Linked DNA regions of Homo sapiens: all the other regions are linked to region 3. Evidence: fine-mapped expression QTL. A gene starts in region 3. Each other region holds a variant in brackets. All regions are shown on one strand. Distances are from middle to middle. Region 1 overlaps DIRC3-AS1 (DIRC3 antisense RNA 1). Region 2 overlaps TNS1 (tensin 1). Region 3 holds the start of DIRC3 (disrupted in renal carcinoma 3). Region 4 has its middle 21 kb from the start of DIRC3-AS1.

Region 1 (4,054 bases), 510 kb before region 3:
AGCCAATGCTGCTTAGTCTTTCTGAGACATCAGGCAAATTCTCTTTTTCCATGTTTCAGATTTCTCCTCTGTATAATAAGGGGCTTAGGTTCTACGGTTTCTAAAAGATCCTTCCAGTCCTAGAAATCTCTGATCCTACAATATATTACCCCTTAGAAATGATTATTTTAACGAAAAAGAATGTAAATTTCTCATCTTCAAAATAAAGACATGCCTTTTCCACTACCCCCACTCTCCCACTTTATGACATGGAGGAGATTGAGAAGATGCTGTTTAGTGACAGACCAGATTCCTTTGGAGACCAGGGAGTTGGGGGGAGTACAAATATCATATTCAGGACAGAAATTCAGACTTCAATGCTGCAAGTCTTGCCTCTCAACTCTCCATGCACTATCAATTTTATTATTTATCTACTGACTTTCCTGAGTAGGAAAGAGATCAGGTCAAGTAGCATACAATATCCTTCTTATTCCCCTGCGGATGTCTGAGGCTTCTTTCCCCTTTGGTCCAATCTGATTTGTATGTCTTCTGGGTTAATACCCCCAGAGTGCTCTAGGCTGCTTTCTGCCTAAATGTCACATAAATCAAAGTGTGTAATCTTGCAAGGGTGAGGAGTGGTGGAGAGTCAGCCAGGATCGAGATGCTAAGGACAGACTGAGCCATCCCATTTCCCCACTTCCCAGACCTTGTTCTTGCCCTCCTGCAAAGCCTTAGGAAGGCCTCATGGGGGGAGCTTGAACTCATTCCCACGCACTCCTGATGGTTCCAGCTACTCAACCTTTTACTAAATGGCTCTGCACAGCTGTTTCTAGTTACGTGTCTATTTACGTTGTTGGTGTACGTGTGCTTGTGTACCATGTGTGCATCTTATCCCCTCAGTTCCCCAGCTACCCGAGGCCTCCAGTGAATCCACATGATGTCATTTGGAATCCCAAGTGGAGGCAATCACAAAGCAACATAATGTTCAAATTCAGCAAGCATTTACAAAGGTTGTATGCATCTTCTTTGTCATTCATAAAGGCAAGGGAAGTTAGAATTCAGGAAATAAGATGCAAAGACTCATGAATGTCTTCAGATTCCAAAAGAGTAAATTTTACTATTGGAGTACAGTTAGATTGTAATCCTCTTGAAACAGATACTTTTTCCTTTCTTAATCACCTAGATGACAAATGTAAGACTTACCCCTGACTTGGTCCATTGATTTGTTCATTCACTAATTCAACAACATTTACTAAGTTTCTCCATGTACACTGGACTGCTCAAAGCTCTATAGGAGATACAGTAATGTGCTTTGCTGCCTCTGAATGGAGCAGTGTCCCTCCCAGCCTATGGGCATGGCTAAATTTTAGAAGGATTCTTCTGCTTGTCTTCAACTTCAAAGATCAGCCTGAACACGGAGTGAAATCACCAGTGTTCCTGGCAGGAAGAGACCCTGTTCCACACCCAACACATCATCCTAATAGTAGGCTTTTGACACAGTCCTATTAAATAATGAAGCATGTCTCTGTCTAAGTTTATATAATCAGTACTTCATAATTCAGAAACTTTGCCTCTCAGAGGTCGATCAGCAAGCTCAGTGAGTTCCTATAAACCAGTTTGAAAGGAATTACTGTCTGGAGGCATA[C/T]TCCCCATTCTGCCTGCCATGGTTGCCAAATGGTGGCTTTTCTAATTTTTTCATTCCTTTCTGCATTTATTAATTGACTTTCTAATATAAGGAAGAGCTTTCTTTTCCTCCTACTCATTTAGTTAAATCAGATTTTTCTGATTTAACTAATAGGCTATAATCCTTTATTATTACAAATTTATTTTGATGTCCACGATGTCCCAGAGTTGGCCAGTAGAAGCGCCCACAATCTGGCTTCCGTATCCTTTTGAAATGTCTCCATCATTCTTTGGGAACATTCTTAATTTCTGAAAAAAAAAAATATATTTCAGGTTCATCTTTTACTTTCTCTCCCTTAGCTACAGAATCAGTCATTTTTTTTTCAAAGAGCCCTAATTCCTTTTAGTAGAGAATAGTATTTAAAAACCAAGATCGGGAAGCCAGGTGGTCTCGCTGCACTGCAATTCCTTGGTTTTAGGCCCTCTAAGAATACACAGCTAGGAAATAGATTTATGTACACACACACACACACACACACACACACACACCTGCATCCACATACATCTCAATATTTATATCCACATAGGTCGATCTCTTTTTGTAGCTATCTAGATAGTATATGCCATGAGTTCTCACTGAAAGCTCCAATTCCAATCCAACACCACTGAAGTGTTGCTAACATTTCCCCTCACCATGTTTGTAACTACCTTCTCTTATAAGGTGAACACTGGCTGCCATCTTCTATAATATATTTACTTATTTGCTCAATACTAGAATTCACACAGAATAGTTTCAGAATTGCTATCCTGTGCCTCTATGAAAAGCAAGCCTCCCTCCACAGAACCAATGATTGTTTAGAATTTTATTCTTTGGCCCGAGCACATCTTGTCAAAGAATACATGAGTTAGTTAGTTCTTTCTTTAGCATCAGGTTAGTTTTTCTTTAGCACCAGCCTTATTTCCCCTCTTCAACATCGCTTTGAGACATGCCCTGAATCTTTGTTTTAGCCATCTCCAAAATAAGCTAAAGCCTCATTTTTGGTGCTCTGGTGCTGCTGCTGGAGCCAACACATGTCTCTCTGGAACACCAAGTAAATATTCAATGCATGTTTGCTCACTCCGCCTTCCTGTGAAGCTAATCCAACAAATAGATGACAGAAATATCTTCATTTCCACAAATGCACTTGTGAGCTTATAATAAGAGTCTTATCTCCCAGGGCTATCCACATTCCCATGGCTTCCCCATTCCCCATGTTTAGATACCAAAATCCTTCTTCACTTTTAGACAAGTCTTAATTCATCTTCCCTATAAAGGCTTCGTAATACCTCTTTACCTAAACATAGAGCCTAGCCCCACAAATGCCGTGTTCATAGATTTAGAAGCTCGTTTCATATTTATCAAGTTCTCACATTCTCCATCTTTCATATTTTAAAATATTTATTTAATTAAATTTATGAGCCAGAAATTGAAAAACATATGGAGTGAAGGGAAGGAAAGAAGGAAAAAAATAGCTCATTCATTCAACTTTTCCCAGCTGCCATTCCTGACTCGGGAGATTTGGCTGAGTTCTTGGTTAATGCCATGCAATAAAACTTCCATAGGATGCCAAATTTAGGTCCAGCATGAAAAGAAAACAAAATCCCTCCTATAAGACAAACTATTCAATTTGGAAATGGGATTTTTTTTTTAAGTCCTGCGCTTAAACCTTCATAGTGATTGTTTCCACAAGGGCGAGAATCAGCCCACCCCTTGGAAAGCTTCTGAATGGGGCAGTGTAGAAAATTTTAAGAAACATTTATTTCTCTGAATGGAGAACTGTTACTCTTGGGGGCTCTGCTTTCTCCTTTTTGGACAGAATCCACTCTGCCCTATCCCGGCTAGAAGAAGAAAAGGTGTAGCGTGCAGGCAGGGAGGACGAGTCCAGGTGCTGGACACTGCACAATGGGTCCTATTCTTTGTTATTTGCAATCCATCTTTCTCAAAGTTGGCTCACAAGAAGTACATCTCCTTGTGCAGTTAACCCGCTGGACTACCCTACCTGAGAACATGGGTGGGTACTTTCTCAACACATATAAGGTCCAACACATGACAAGTGACAGAGTGAGATGAAGCTTTCCAAACTGGCATGAGTTTTGTACAGTTTCATATATGGTCTGATTACCTGGTTACCTACGGTCTGGTCACCTGGTGACTTTTATTGTCCTGTCTCTACCTATGTATGTATGTATCTCCACCTATATACTTTTATTGTCGTATCTCTACCTATGTTTTACACACACACACACGCACACACATTATATATATGTTATGTTGCAGTTATATTTTATTATCACTTTTAAGATGGAAAGTTTTGCATTCCAGGAAACCCTCAGTCCTGAGAAGACTGGGGCATTAGATCACCCTGTGTTGCAGAGTTTTTCAAATGGCAAGTATTAATTATTATTTAGATTG
Region 2 (4,054 bases), 16 kb after region 3:
AGGAGGTGGACAGCAGCCCAGGTGAGCAAGCTGGTCTCAGGCCAACCTCTCTTCCCCATCCCTCCAGCAGGCCTCAGCATCAGGGACTCAGAGAGGTGCAGAAGAGAATCCTCTGTGCACTCCCCTGACCACAAGCCAAGTCCTAGAGACAGTGTCCCACCTTGTTTAAGGGTGGGCAGAAATCCCCTTTGAAGGGGTGCGAGGGGAGCTGCAGAGGATTGACAAGGCTGGATAGTGAGGGGTGGGGAGGAGACCAAAATAAAATGGGAACATTCCTAGACAGGCCTCTCCCCGCCCATCCCAGCCCTACCCCTACTGACTGTTCTTACACACAACACATATGCCAATCAGGAAAGTGCTGTCTGCCTGCAAACGGCTCAGCCTCCTCAGACACCACAAGGTCAGGGAGACAAAGGTCAAGTAGCTCACACCCCTCCACACACACACACTTATTCTTCCTGGGCTCAAGAACCTTGGAAGCCAGAAAATAAAAGGGAAGGTGGACCCCACACCCGTTCCCCACCCCCACCCGCAGGACTGGAGTGACCCAGCATTCTCTTCGCAAAACAGAGTTAAAAATATGAGGGCAGAGAACAGAATGTGAGCTCAGGTCCCCTCCCAGCCAGCATGTTGCTAATTAGAGCGAGATGGGGAAATGAGGACAGCTGGAGATTCCTATGAAAACCCCTCTCCCTACCGCAGGACCACGGCAGCTGAAGTTAGCAAAGGGGGATTCTGCTGGTCCCTGTGTGCCTGTGTGTACAAACCACCACACACATGCACCACACACATACACACCATCACACACACCACCACACACACCACACACACCACACACACACCACACACACCACCACACACACCACACACACCACACACACCACACACACCACCACACACCACACACACCACCACACACACCACACACACAACACACACCACCACACACCACACACACCACACACATACACACCATCACACCCACACACATCACACACACACAACACACATATCACCACACACATACACACCATCACACACATCACCACATGCATACACCACACACACACCACTGCACACACCACACATACCACCACACATACACACCACACACCACCACACACACATACACCACACACACACAAACCATGCATACATACATATACAGACCACACACATACACAACATATACACACCACACACAACACGCAAACACAACATATACACACACCACACACACACACACACACACACACATAATCCAGCATTTCCTACAGCTCTGCTCCTCCAGTCTTGTTTCAGGGGCCAGGAGCAACAGGGCCAAAGGCCTGGGGTAATGCCCAGGTGGTGGGGGAGCTGGGGTCCACAGGGCATCCCCCAGCACCTCCCTTTCCCAGCTGGCTCAGACCATGAGCAGGGGTGGGGGTGATCCTGGCAGAGGGAGGAAGCATGCCAGCCCTGGCTGCGGGTGTCTACCAGGATGGAGACCCGGCAACTGCACCTGACTGGAGCACCGAGCCTGCCCTCCCCTGATATTTCTTTCAGCTGTGGCTTCCAGGCTCCCGCAA[T/G]AGCCCAGTCCTGTCATCTGCCACAAGGAATAGATCCAGGCAAGAAGCCTCAGCCCGCAAGGGCAGGAGGAAGCGCTTGCAAGATCCCAAGATCTAACATCTCCTTGAATTTTGCACATGAGATCCCTGGCTGGCCTCACCTCGTCCCTGTCATGATTCCCTGTTAGCCCACTGCCCTGCTTGGCCTCTCCCTGTGGCCTCTGCCCCACCCATCAAAGCTTCTTCAGCAGGAGGCTCAACTCAAAACCAGCTCCTGAAGGAGGAAAAGAGGGATTTCCAGGCTTGGGGGCCCAGTTCCCTTCTGTCCCTGACCTTCTTCCCTCGCAGGGCCCTGTGGTGAGTGAGCACAAGCCCCTTCAAACAGGAAGTTCCAGCCTGCTGCCTTGGCCAGCAGAGACACGGGAAATGCAGGAACTCAAAGCACTGATGACCCTATGAAGCCTGGACAAGGCTGAACCCCACCATCCCACATGGCCTCTCCTAAGCTACCATCACTGACCATGTGATAGACTAGTCAGTCCATTCATTCGGACTGAGGCATTCTCACTAGCCTCCTCCTGCCTCTGCTCTTCCAGCCTCCATTCTCTCATTTCTTCACTCAACAAATATATACCACCTCCCCATGTGTCAGACATGGCCCTTCCCTTGGGGAGCTTGCAGGCTGGTGGCCATGAGGCCCCTCCCCTGAAATAGCCCCTCCTACTCCCATTCTCATTTTGACCTGTCCAAATTGAACCTGTCTTTGAAGACCCGTCCTTAAATATCTGCTCTTTCCACCTCTCTGAGGTGCTGATGTGTTCTCCTGCATGAGCTCCCCAGACGTAAGCTGAACTCTCTTGCTGCCTCTCCCTCCCTTGCAACTGTCATTTTTTTAACACTGAACGTTTTGTTTTTCTAAAGCAACCTTATATGAAGTCTGCATATATAAAGGTGAAAGCAGTATTTTACAGCTATAAACAGCAATCCAAAAGCACGACATTTACCTATTATAAAGTCAATCAGTGAGGATAATAGGGCTGTTGGAATAATCCTGACAAAGTGAAAAGTAGATGACAGATCATGGTGATAGTCTCATGTCAGCTTCAGACCCCAGGTTATGCCTATATTTTGTTTGGTTTTGTGATTGTGAAAAAACCCTAGTTACTGCTGATAGACAACTGCAAGGAGCAGCAGAGCTTTCCCTCTCTTCTGTACATCAGGTACAATCCAAGGATGCTAGGATCCTTGGAATACAGTTTGAAAATCACAGAAGCATCTTAGTGCTATTTAGACATCTGTCTTATCTGCTGTGCCAATGGGCCTCCTGAGGGCAGGGTCAGAGACCCAGGCAGGATCTGAGTCCCTTGGAGGCCCCTAGGACATGTCTGCTGGATGGAGGAATCCACCCGAAGGTCCCAGGGCCATCCCCAGAATTCAGACTTTCTGGGCTCCCACATTCTGATAAGGCTGATTTGCTCGGCCACAAGACTCACAGGAAAGCCCACCAAAAAAGCAAGAGCAGAAATAAAGGCAGCTAGAATTGGGGCAGAAAAGATCATGTAAGCAATCTCTGACCCATTTCCATTGCTTCTAATAAGACTGTTTTCTGTCCACTTCCTGCCATCCCTGCTGCTTCTAACCCTGGGAGAGTGAAGGCAGCTGGACCAGACGCTGGGCCTCTGGCCTCGAGGCAGGACAAGGCAAAAGGCCTGGAAGCCTGGTCAAGCTTCACTCGGAAGCTGAGTGACCTTGGCACAAAGGTTTTTGCTGCTCTTTCCCTACCCCCAGCCCTGGTTTCTAAATGTGCCCCGTGCTTCCCTCACTGTGAAGTACAAAGGCCAGCCTGCTGGGCAGGGGTAAGAAGTCACACTTACTTAGCAGGGGCACCACCCTCTGTTTTCATCCACCTGTGGAGAGAAAGTGGGCTCAGGGTAAATCATCGTACTTTCTCCCTAGAGCCCAGCCCCACCCATGCCCAGACCCTCTGCAGGAAGGTCTGGGGAGAGGAGCTGCCCCCCATTCCCCCCTCATTCCCCCATTCCCCCATTCCCCAGGGACAGGAGCTGCCCAAGATCACACAGATGCATTCAAGGTCGAGAGAACACTGCAGCCTGCCTCCTGAGGGGCTCTCCCCATCATGGAGAGGAGAAGCAGATTCAAGGTCAGGGCATGGCAGAGGGGGTAGCAGTGGGCACTGAGTCCCTGGGAGGGTCTCCATATCTATAGTGGGAAAGACTCAAAAGATGCCCAACACGATTACTCACACATGGGCAGACCTTCCAGCTGAATGGAGAATGTATGCACATGCACACACACACACACACACATGCACATGCATGCACCCACACAGACGTCAGTGTTAGAAAGCTGTGTGGGAGAGAAGCTGTGTACAAGAGACTTACTTTCTTTCCTGTGGATCCAGGTCACAGAAGGTGACAGTGTTGAGAGGGTAGTGGCGTCTGAAAAAGAGCCTGCAGCACAGACATCAGATAAACAGAGAATGAGTG
Region 3 (4,054 bases):
TTTTAGGGAAAAGAGGACTATTTACTTTTTAATTTTACTTTCAATCAGTCAGATTCAGTTCCACGTTCATAGAGACTTGGGGTAGTTCAGTGAAATCAGAGCCTGGGTGTCCTTGGAGAAAGGTTGATGTTCATGCTCACTCTTTTTGTGGGGGTCATTGACTCTGAAAAAGAGGGAAGTCTAATAACTGAGTCTGGGAAATAAAGATGCCTGCATTTCAGGTTCTCTGACCCAGATCCCGGAGGATGGGGAGCAGCTGTTTCCATCTCCGCAGGTGCTAGAACCTCTAGGAATGTAGTCACTTGGAAGGGGAGAAGCAAGAGTGAGTGGAATAGAACTTCCAGAGGTCAAATCACCCGAAAGGTCCAGTGGAGCTGAACACTGCACCGTCTGCCACAGGAGAGGCGCTCACCTGCCCTGCCAAGCAGCAGGCCGGCTGCAGGGGAATGGACAGGTTGGCCTTGCAGACTCAGCGAGCAAGCACTAGGGCATGGGCTATGCAGGGCTGTGAGAGGGCAGCCCAGAGACACCCAGGTCCCAAAGGCCCAAAGAACGGGACATGGGGGTTTTGAGAGGGGAAGGATCTTGCCTAGGCCCCGTTGTGTCCAGTGCCCCTTCTGCTGAGCCACACCCTGGAGCCCTGGAGCTCTCTGGCTCCTGCCACTGCTGACTGCCTGAGTGGTGGTCATTGAGAAATGATTGAGAAAATCTGGGCCAGGTCCAATCCGCCACGAGGGATGATTGATAATGGGAACAGAGACTGTGGGTCTCCGTCCTCACCGCTGTACTGAAGCTTTTAATAATCAGCCTGTCTCTAAGTACCTGAAGACTCTCGGCTTCCAGCTGTCTATTAATTGTGCCTCTCAGGCCCTTGGACAGTTGATTCAGCCTACTGCCCACTGTGACCGCTTCCAGGAAAGGCAATGAGTGGCTGCGGTTCCCAAGTTGGCCACTAGAGGGAGCCGTAGCCCGTGGCAGCTCTGCCTTAACTGGCGGGGGAGAAGAAAACCAAAGGGTCACAGAATCCCTGCCTGTATGGACATCCCAAAGTCCTCCCTTAGCTCTCCCCAGTCCAAGTTTAGGCCCCTCCTGTTTTCAGAAGTTCTTGAAAAGGGAGGTCCATCCTCCCCTGAGGACCACTGGCAGCAGCTCCTGCCGAAACCCTGCCTACAGGTGCCTCAGCGGGGTGGGGCCTTGGGGGAGGCTGCCTGGGAGACAGAAGGCAGATGAGATGGGAAACGGAGGGACAGAGAGGAGGGAAGGCAGAGGGCAAATGCAGACAGGATGGGCTGGAAGGGAGGAGGCGCTGAAAAGGGAGACGGGGGAGACTGGAAACAGGAGAGAGGAGACCCCAAGGGGGAAACCTCGAACTCAGCCTCCCCCACCTGCCCTTCCTGCCGGTCCCAAATACTCATCCAGAGGAGGGCCCGACTCCCTCCCTCCAGTGTCTGCTGTTGCTCCCGGCCTGCCCTGTTTACCTGGCCAGCCACGGTCTCCCAAACACCAATCCAGGATTTGGGGTTATTAGAGGCTGGGGAGGGTGAGATCCTGGAGCAGGAATCGGAGAAGAGGAAGCGCAGTGAGACGGCTGTAACCCAGCACCAGGCACACACAGAACGCTGACGCTGCCCTGAATTCCACCCAGCTGCGGCTCTCACCTGATCTCCACCTCTCTTATATCTGCTTGGGATAGAGTTCAGCTGTTTTTAGTCATCTGAAGGACTGTCATTCACAGAAGGCTTCTCCTTCCCCGGCTGACACCTGCTGATACTGCAGCAGGAATGATCCAGGTTAGGTATCAGAAGCTCCTTCCAAAAGGCTGCCCCAGGAGGGGGCTTCAGCTTTCTGGGACACATCTCCTTCCTTCCTGGCCTCTGTCCTCGCCATCCTGACGTCTACGCAGGAGAAACCTTGGCCAAAGTGACTAACGGAAGCAAAGAGTAAAGCCCAGGAAAACACGTCGATTGGGGTGGGTGGGGGTCAAGGTCTTCCGAGCTGTCTATACTTGCTGTGTCTCTACTTCCTATTCACTCATCAGTTCACCAACTCTACAAATCTCGTGAGACTTTCATGAGCCTGACGCTGTGCTAAGCCACTTCCTCAGCCTCCTGCCCCCTACTGATGCTGTCGCTCTTTTCCCAAAGAAAAGGACAAGGATGATTTCTTTGTGGCCAAATTCAGTGTCCTTCTTCTGGGGCTCACTAACTTTGATCCTAAGGTGGTGGCTGGACTGTTGACCAGCCATTCTTTCCTTCTAGAAAAGAAGAAAAGCTCCTTTCCCCATCAAAACACCACCCCTTCTAGGTCCTCCTCCTTCCTCTCTGAGACCTCTGTCTTCTTCACAGGACCTTCTCCTCCTCTCCTTCCCTTCTCCTTACACAGCAATGTTCCCCTGCTTCCACCCACGACTCTCCTCTGTCTACAGTACCTCTGTGTCAGGATGACTCACAGCCTGCAAAGGCACAGCAATATTCCTATGTCTCTATTTTCTACATCACACAACCCTCTCTGCAGCACTAGCAAGAAACTTTAGGTTGTATCTAACACTTGGAGCTTAGATAGCACCAAGGCCTGGAGACAGGCCCACCTGGTCATCCAGTCTGTTGTCCTCAGAGATGTCCACCGTCTAGTCTGGGTGGCCCTGTGAGTTAAGCTGCTCTTTCTGCAGTCTCTAGACTCCACACATGGAGCATAGAAAGCTCTGCCCTGCAGCCTCAGGCCTTGTCCTCTGTGCCCGAGATACAGGGGAATGGACAGATTGACCTTGCAGAGGAGTAAGCACGAGGACAGAGGCCATGCAGAGAGGCAGTCACCTCCCTGGAGATAATGTTGAGAACTCCATGCAGCCACCCACCCCAACCCCAGACCCTTTCTCATTCTCTTTCTCCAGTCCAAGGGGGGCATTTGAACTGACCCAACTTGAGTCACGAACTCATCCCTGGACCAGTCTGCAGTATGACTGGAGGAAGTGGTCAAGATATCTCAATACACTGACATGGCCCCTGGTACCCATCCCTACACATCCCCCCCTTCCCATGAAAGAGGGGGACTCAAGCTGTTCAGCTACCCCCTCCCCATATGGTATCTAATATAACTCTTAAATCTTTCCCTCCAGCACATGTTGGAGTATGAATCAGAAATTTCCAGTTGTTCCCAATACCCACTCTCCTCTCCTCCTTTACTAATAACTCCCCAGAAGTATGGCTGTACTCATGGCTGCAAGGTATAAAAATGGCATTTCCCAGCAGCTAGTTGAGGCCATGTGACAGTTCTGGCTATTGTGATCTGAGCAGAAACAATGTATATACTGTAAATGTACCACATCCTTAAAGAGAAGGGCACGCCCTCTCCTTCCTCTTTTCCTGCTTTTCACTGACTAGAATGCAGTTGTAATGGCAGGAGCTGGAGCAACCATAATGGACCACATATTGAGGATGGCAGGGCGATCAAATTGAAGGGCCCTGGGGTCCTGACTAATTTCATAGGGGAGAGCTATAATACAAGTAAGACAAAAACAAATGGCCACATTTAAGTGTTTGGTAATTCAAAGTCTTTGTTATAGAAGCTGCACTAATATTCTAACTGATACAGAGCTAAAGAGATCTTCAAGCCAGGTACAGTGGCTCACGCCTGTAATCTCAACACTTTGGGAGGCTGAGGCAGGAGGATCACTTGAGCTTGGGAGTTCAAGACCAGCCTGGGCAACCTAGCAAGACCTCATCTCTGCTACAAAAAAAAAAAAATTGAAAAAATTAGCTGGGCATCGTGACACACACCTGTAAGTCCCAGCTATTCAGGGGGCTGAGGTGGGACAATTTCTTGAGCCCAGGAGGACAAAGCTGCAGTGAGCTATGATTGCACCACTGCACTCCAGCCTGGGCAATGGAGCAAGACCCTGTCTCTATAAAAAACAAAAACAAGAGATCTTCAGTCCATTTCTATAGCACTTTCCAGCTATGAGATTTGGAGCAAACTACTTAATCCTTCTGAGCTTTCATTTTCTTAGCTGTCTGCCTATTTCCCACAATCATTTTATAAAATGAATGAAATAGCA
Region 4 (4,054 bases), 530 kb before region 3:
GGTCTGGAAGCAGCTCTTCTTAGCTGTCCTATCATGCCACAGTAACTCCGGGTCTCTGAGACAAGTGTCCTGAAACTCTTGAGTTCTCACATGCCCTTTCATCTTTCCCTCTTTTTTGATCAATCCAACCAATTCATGGCTTCCTGTTGAATGTTATTTTATAATAATATGGTTTATGTTATTAACACTCTTTAATGTTATTCAAGCCCATCTTCTATCATGTCATTGCTTAAAAAGCCTCAACAGTTCCTTAGGGTCAAGCCCACTGTGTGTGAGCTTCTTAACTGGGCATTTAGAATCCTCTCCAATATCCTCCACTACCTATGATTTATATTTTAGCCAAAATGGACCCTTTATAATCTTGAACTTCATTGCATGTCTGCACTTCTATACCAGTGCTGAATCCCAAACTGAAATCTGGTTCATATTTCATGAAACAGCTGGTTTTTACACCCACATCTTGAAATCTCTTTCTATTCCCTCACCTAGATACAAACTCTTCAAGGGGCCAGTAGAGTATAGTGGCTAAAATCTTGGATTCTAAAACCCAGCTGTCAAGGTTCAAATCCCAGCCACACCATGTGCTGACTGTGAGATCATATACAAGTCTCTTTTCACTTCACATCTGTTTCCTTATCTGGAAAATCAAGAATATTAATCAGATATTAAATGAGATAATATACATTTAATCTAGTCCGTGGAACCCTGTAAGCATGCAGCAACTGCGAGCTATTATGGCAGATGCTGTTGCTAGCCCACCCACATCCTCTTGGTATTTGTCTCTACATTCTCAACCTGTTTATAGAAAACATTCGTGACTCTCTGTAGTCAAGATAGCATGCTCAGCTCTCATACAGGGCAGAGCAGAAGTTTCTGAGATGTAATCAGTCTCCCAAGAAGCGACACTCAGACAATGACCAATGGAGAGTCAGTGGATGAATACCCCTTGTTAGGAATAACTCTGAACCCTATTCTAGAGTGTGGACAGCATAGAATCTCTTATTGTCTCCCAGACTTCCCCAGCAGGCTGTAACATCAGTTGCCCGCAATGGTAATTGGCTTGGCAGATACCTTCTGTCAGCTCCTTTGCCTTCCCTAACTTACTCTCCACTCTCTTTTATGTATTTCCTGGGATCGTTTCCCAAAACTACTTGGATTCTTGTCTCCGGGTTGGCTTCTGGAGGACTCTAAAACCATAACTGCTCTTATCACTACAGCTGACTTCTTTGAAACCATGAAAATACTGCTTTATTTGCATTCGTCTTCTGCTAGTTAGAGTCTACCTTCATAAAACCTAAAATCCAACAAAAAATTAAGACCAAAATACAAATATTTCTCACAGTACCTCTCACATAGAAGTTACTCAATCTGTATTTAGAGAGCAAAGAATAATGGGAGATCAAAAGATTACTCTGTGACTATAAAAATAGAGCGAGGACTATTGATTGGTTACTAAGAATATTTTACAAACTTTTATGGTTTGACACACCCTTTTAATGGTGGTATGTCTACCTAATATATCTGCACCTTCCCAAAATCCCCTCCCCTCGATGTCAGCATCAGGACTCCCCTCCTCCTCTAGCTAGATTTGAGAGACACTTGCCATTATCTCATCATTATTTTATCATGTTA[A/G]TGTACTTGTGTAACCTTTTATATTTTCTAAATATGAAAAATATTTTACAGAGATTACATTTGACGCAGCTGCTTCCTGAAGACCTAGAGATCACTTTAATCTTACAAGCACATTCTTCAGATTGTCGTGTGGGTGGGTAACTTCCGCCAGACTTTTCTGGAGATGGCTAATCCAGCCGTGGGATGTGGTTTCTTCTAACAGCCAGTCAGGAAAATCTTGCTTCTCAAACTCCTGTCTTGACCCCTTCCTGAACTTTGCCTCCTGGATCTTGAGGTCTGCCTTCTGTGGAAGAGAAATACTAGAATCAATGAACTGTGAACTAGAGCCCTGGGATTATCAACAGGTAATGGTGATACTGCAGCAGTTGGCTGCATGAGATTTGTGATTACAGACTTGAGAGTGGCTGTCACCTTTGGTGCTACCAGAAGTAGCTTTCAAAACTGCCCTTCTGTAACAGAGAATTCTAGAAGGGTGGTCCATGGACCATCTATATTAGAAGGACTTCTGGCTCTGCTTCGCCTGCGGATTACTGGTCCTGCTCAGGCAAACTGAATCAGAATCACTTGTGAGGATGCTTCAATTTGCATTTGTAGACAAACTCCTCAGGTGATAAGGTGACCAAATTATCCAAGTTTTAGCATTGAAAGTCCCACATTCAGGAAAGCCTTTAGTCCTGAGACACTTGGTCACCAAGTGGATATGTCTTATGTACATTGAATTCTTAGAGCTGTCTTACAGACCCCAAGGTATGCCACACTAACACGGATGCTACTTTTACTCGGTAAGAATCTCTGAGACTTTGAGATGACTTTAATCCAGTGTGACATTGGGTGGGGAGCTCCCTCAGACATCGATCTTGATAAGATCCTTCCATGGGAACTTGAGTGTTTGAGAGACCCAGAGTATGTGTTTTGTTACTTTACTTTTCCTTTCTTTTGAACCTCATGTGCAAGGAGTTGAACTTGGTCTTGAGTTTATAGTACACAATTTAATTCTGTATCTACAAGGCCCTTCTCTGGATTTATGTGGTTATTTATTCTCATTTCCCCACCAGCTCTCCATGCCCAGCAGGCAAACATTACAATGTGATTGTTTTATACTCTGAATTTGTTTGTATCTTTGTAAAGCATATAACATTGTTCCTGTGTATTTTAATTTAAACATATTGTATTCTGCTGCAGACTTCACCCTAACTCTTGCCTTTTTCTGTTAAGTATTGTGTTTAATGCTGCATGGTCCTTTGACCTGTTGTTTCTTGTGGTAGGCAGCTCTTAAGGTGGCTCCCAATAATGGTGCCCTGTTGGTACCCATGTCCCTGTACAATCACCTTACCTTGATTGTGGACTATACTTAGTGACCTGCACTTAGTGAACAGAATGTGGCAAAAAGTGACAGTATGTTACTTTTGAGACTAAGTTATAAAAAGCCTTTGTCTTCTTCTCTTGTGCCCTCCCTTGCTCACTCTGGTGGAAGCCAGCTGAAATTTTGAGAGCCACCTTATAGAAAGCCTAACAGCAAAGACTGGAGAGAGGCTTCCAGCCAACAGCCAGCAAGGAATTGAAGCCCTCAGTCCAATAGCAGTGAGGAATTGAATCCTGCCAACAGCCTCGTGGGTGAGCTTGGAAGCAAATCCTATTCTAGTCTAGTAGAGACTTGAGAGGACCCATAGCTCTTGCCAACACTTGATTGCAGCATTGTAAGAGACCCTGAGCCAAAGGACTCAGCTACACCATGCTGGCTCCTCGCCCATAGAGACCATGATATAATAAATGTTTGTTATTTTAAGATGTTAAACTTGGAGTAATTTGTTACACAGCAATAGATAACTGATATGCTTCTAATCATTGCATGGTGTCCATAGCATATTTTTACCACATTTTACTTGTCCACTTCCTGCAGATGGGTTGCTTGCTGCCTGAATCTAACTCCTGCTACTACTGCAAATACCACTGCCATGAATATCCTCAGCAAGACCCCCTTCCAGACCTGCATGAACAGTTGTGTGAAATGTATATGCACAAAGGGACTGCAAGGGAAGACCCAGAGACTAGGGAAGAACTTGGAACAATAATCTCAGTTTCTTCAATTCCTAAACTTGAGAGTATTGCTGTTTTTAAATGAAAGTATTTTTTCCCCCTAAGCATTTTGTTCTAAAGTTGAGCTGCCTTTGAGGGGAAATAAAGAGACTACCAGATTAATGGGTTTTTTTCAAATGGGATGGTGGGGTAAGGAATAATCGGGGTGGTCTGTGGAACAACTTGGAGGATTGGTGTTATGTCTCAAGAAGATATTCAAGTATGTTCCTCCTTTTTTACCCAGACCGACTGCTTCATGCTGGGCTTCAGACATGAGAGGCTAGGAGTAGGAGGCATGCCTTGTTCAAAGGTGAGTGGACACATTTATCACCATTAAAACAATGTT

The links. PIP is the estimated chance that this variant, and not a neighbour inherited with it, causes the effect. A credible set is the group of variants that fine-mapping cannot tell apart.
Region 1: its variant is the best candidate, but not a certain one, in a credible set for the expression of DIRC3 in testis (GTEx, PIP 0.52).
Region 2: its variant is the best candidate, but not a certain one, in a credible set for the expression of DIRC3 in tibial artery (GTEx, PIP 0.53).
Region 4: its variant is the best candidate, but not a certain one, in a credible set for the expression of DIRC3 in aorta (GTEx, PIP 0.83).

Annotation. Positions count from the first base shown.
Region 1 is chr2:217,282,953-217,287,006 of GRCh38, forward strand. The region is part of intron 1 of DIRC3-AS1 (DIRC3 antisense RNA 1); the gene reads left to right. DIRC3 (disrupted in renal carcinoma 3) reads right to left here. Exons shown (of 13, transcript NR_186301.1): 13 at 1,067-1,911. Among named protein-coding and RNA genes, the nearest start is that of DIRC3-AS1, 2.2 kb to the left of the region's middle. The variant C/T (reference allele first, on the strand shown) is at 1,625.
Region 2 is chr2:217,804,654-217,808,707 of GRCh38, forward strand. It overlaps TNS1 (tensin 1), which reads right to left. Exons shown (of 33, transcript NM_001387777.1): 31 at 3,950-4,018; 32 at 3,422-3,454. Among named protein-coding and RNA genes, the nearest start is that of DIRC3, 16 kb to the left of the region's middle. The variant T/G (reference allele first, on the strand shown) is at 1,569.
Region 3 is chr2:217,788,426-217,792,479 of GRCh38, forward strand. It overlaps DIRC3 (disrupted in renal carcinoma 3), which reads right to left and starts at 2,018. Exons shown (of 13, transcript NR_186301.1): 1 at 1,659-2,018.
Region 4 is chr2:217,259,826-217,263,879 of GRCh38, forward strand. No RefSeq gene overlaps it. Among named protein-coding and RNA genes, the nearest start is that of DIRC3-AS1, 21 kb to the right of the region's middle. RefSeq lists an enhancer at 1,089-2,288. The variant A/G (reference allele first, on the strand shown) is at 1,633.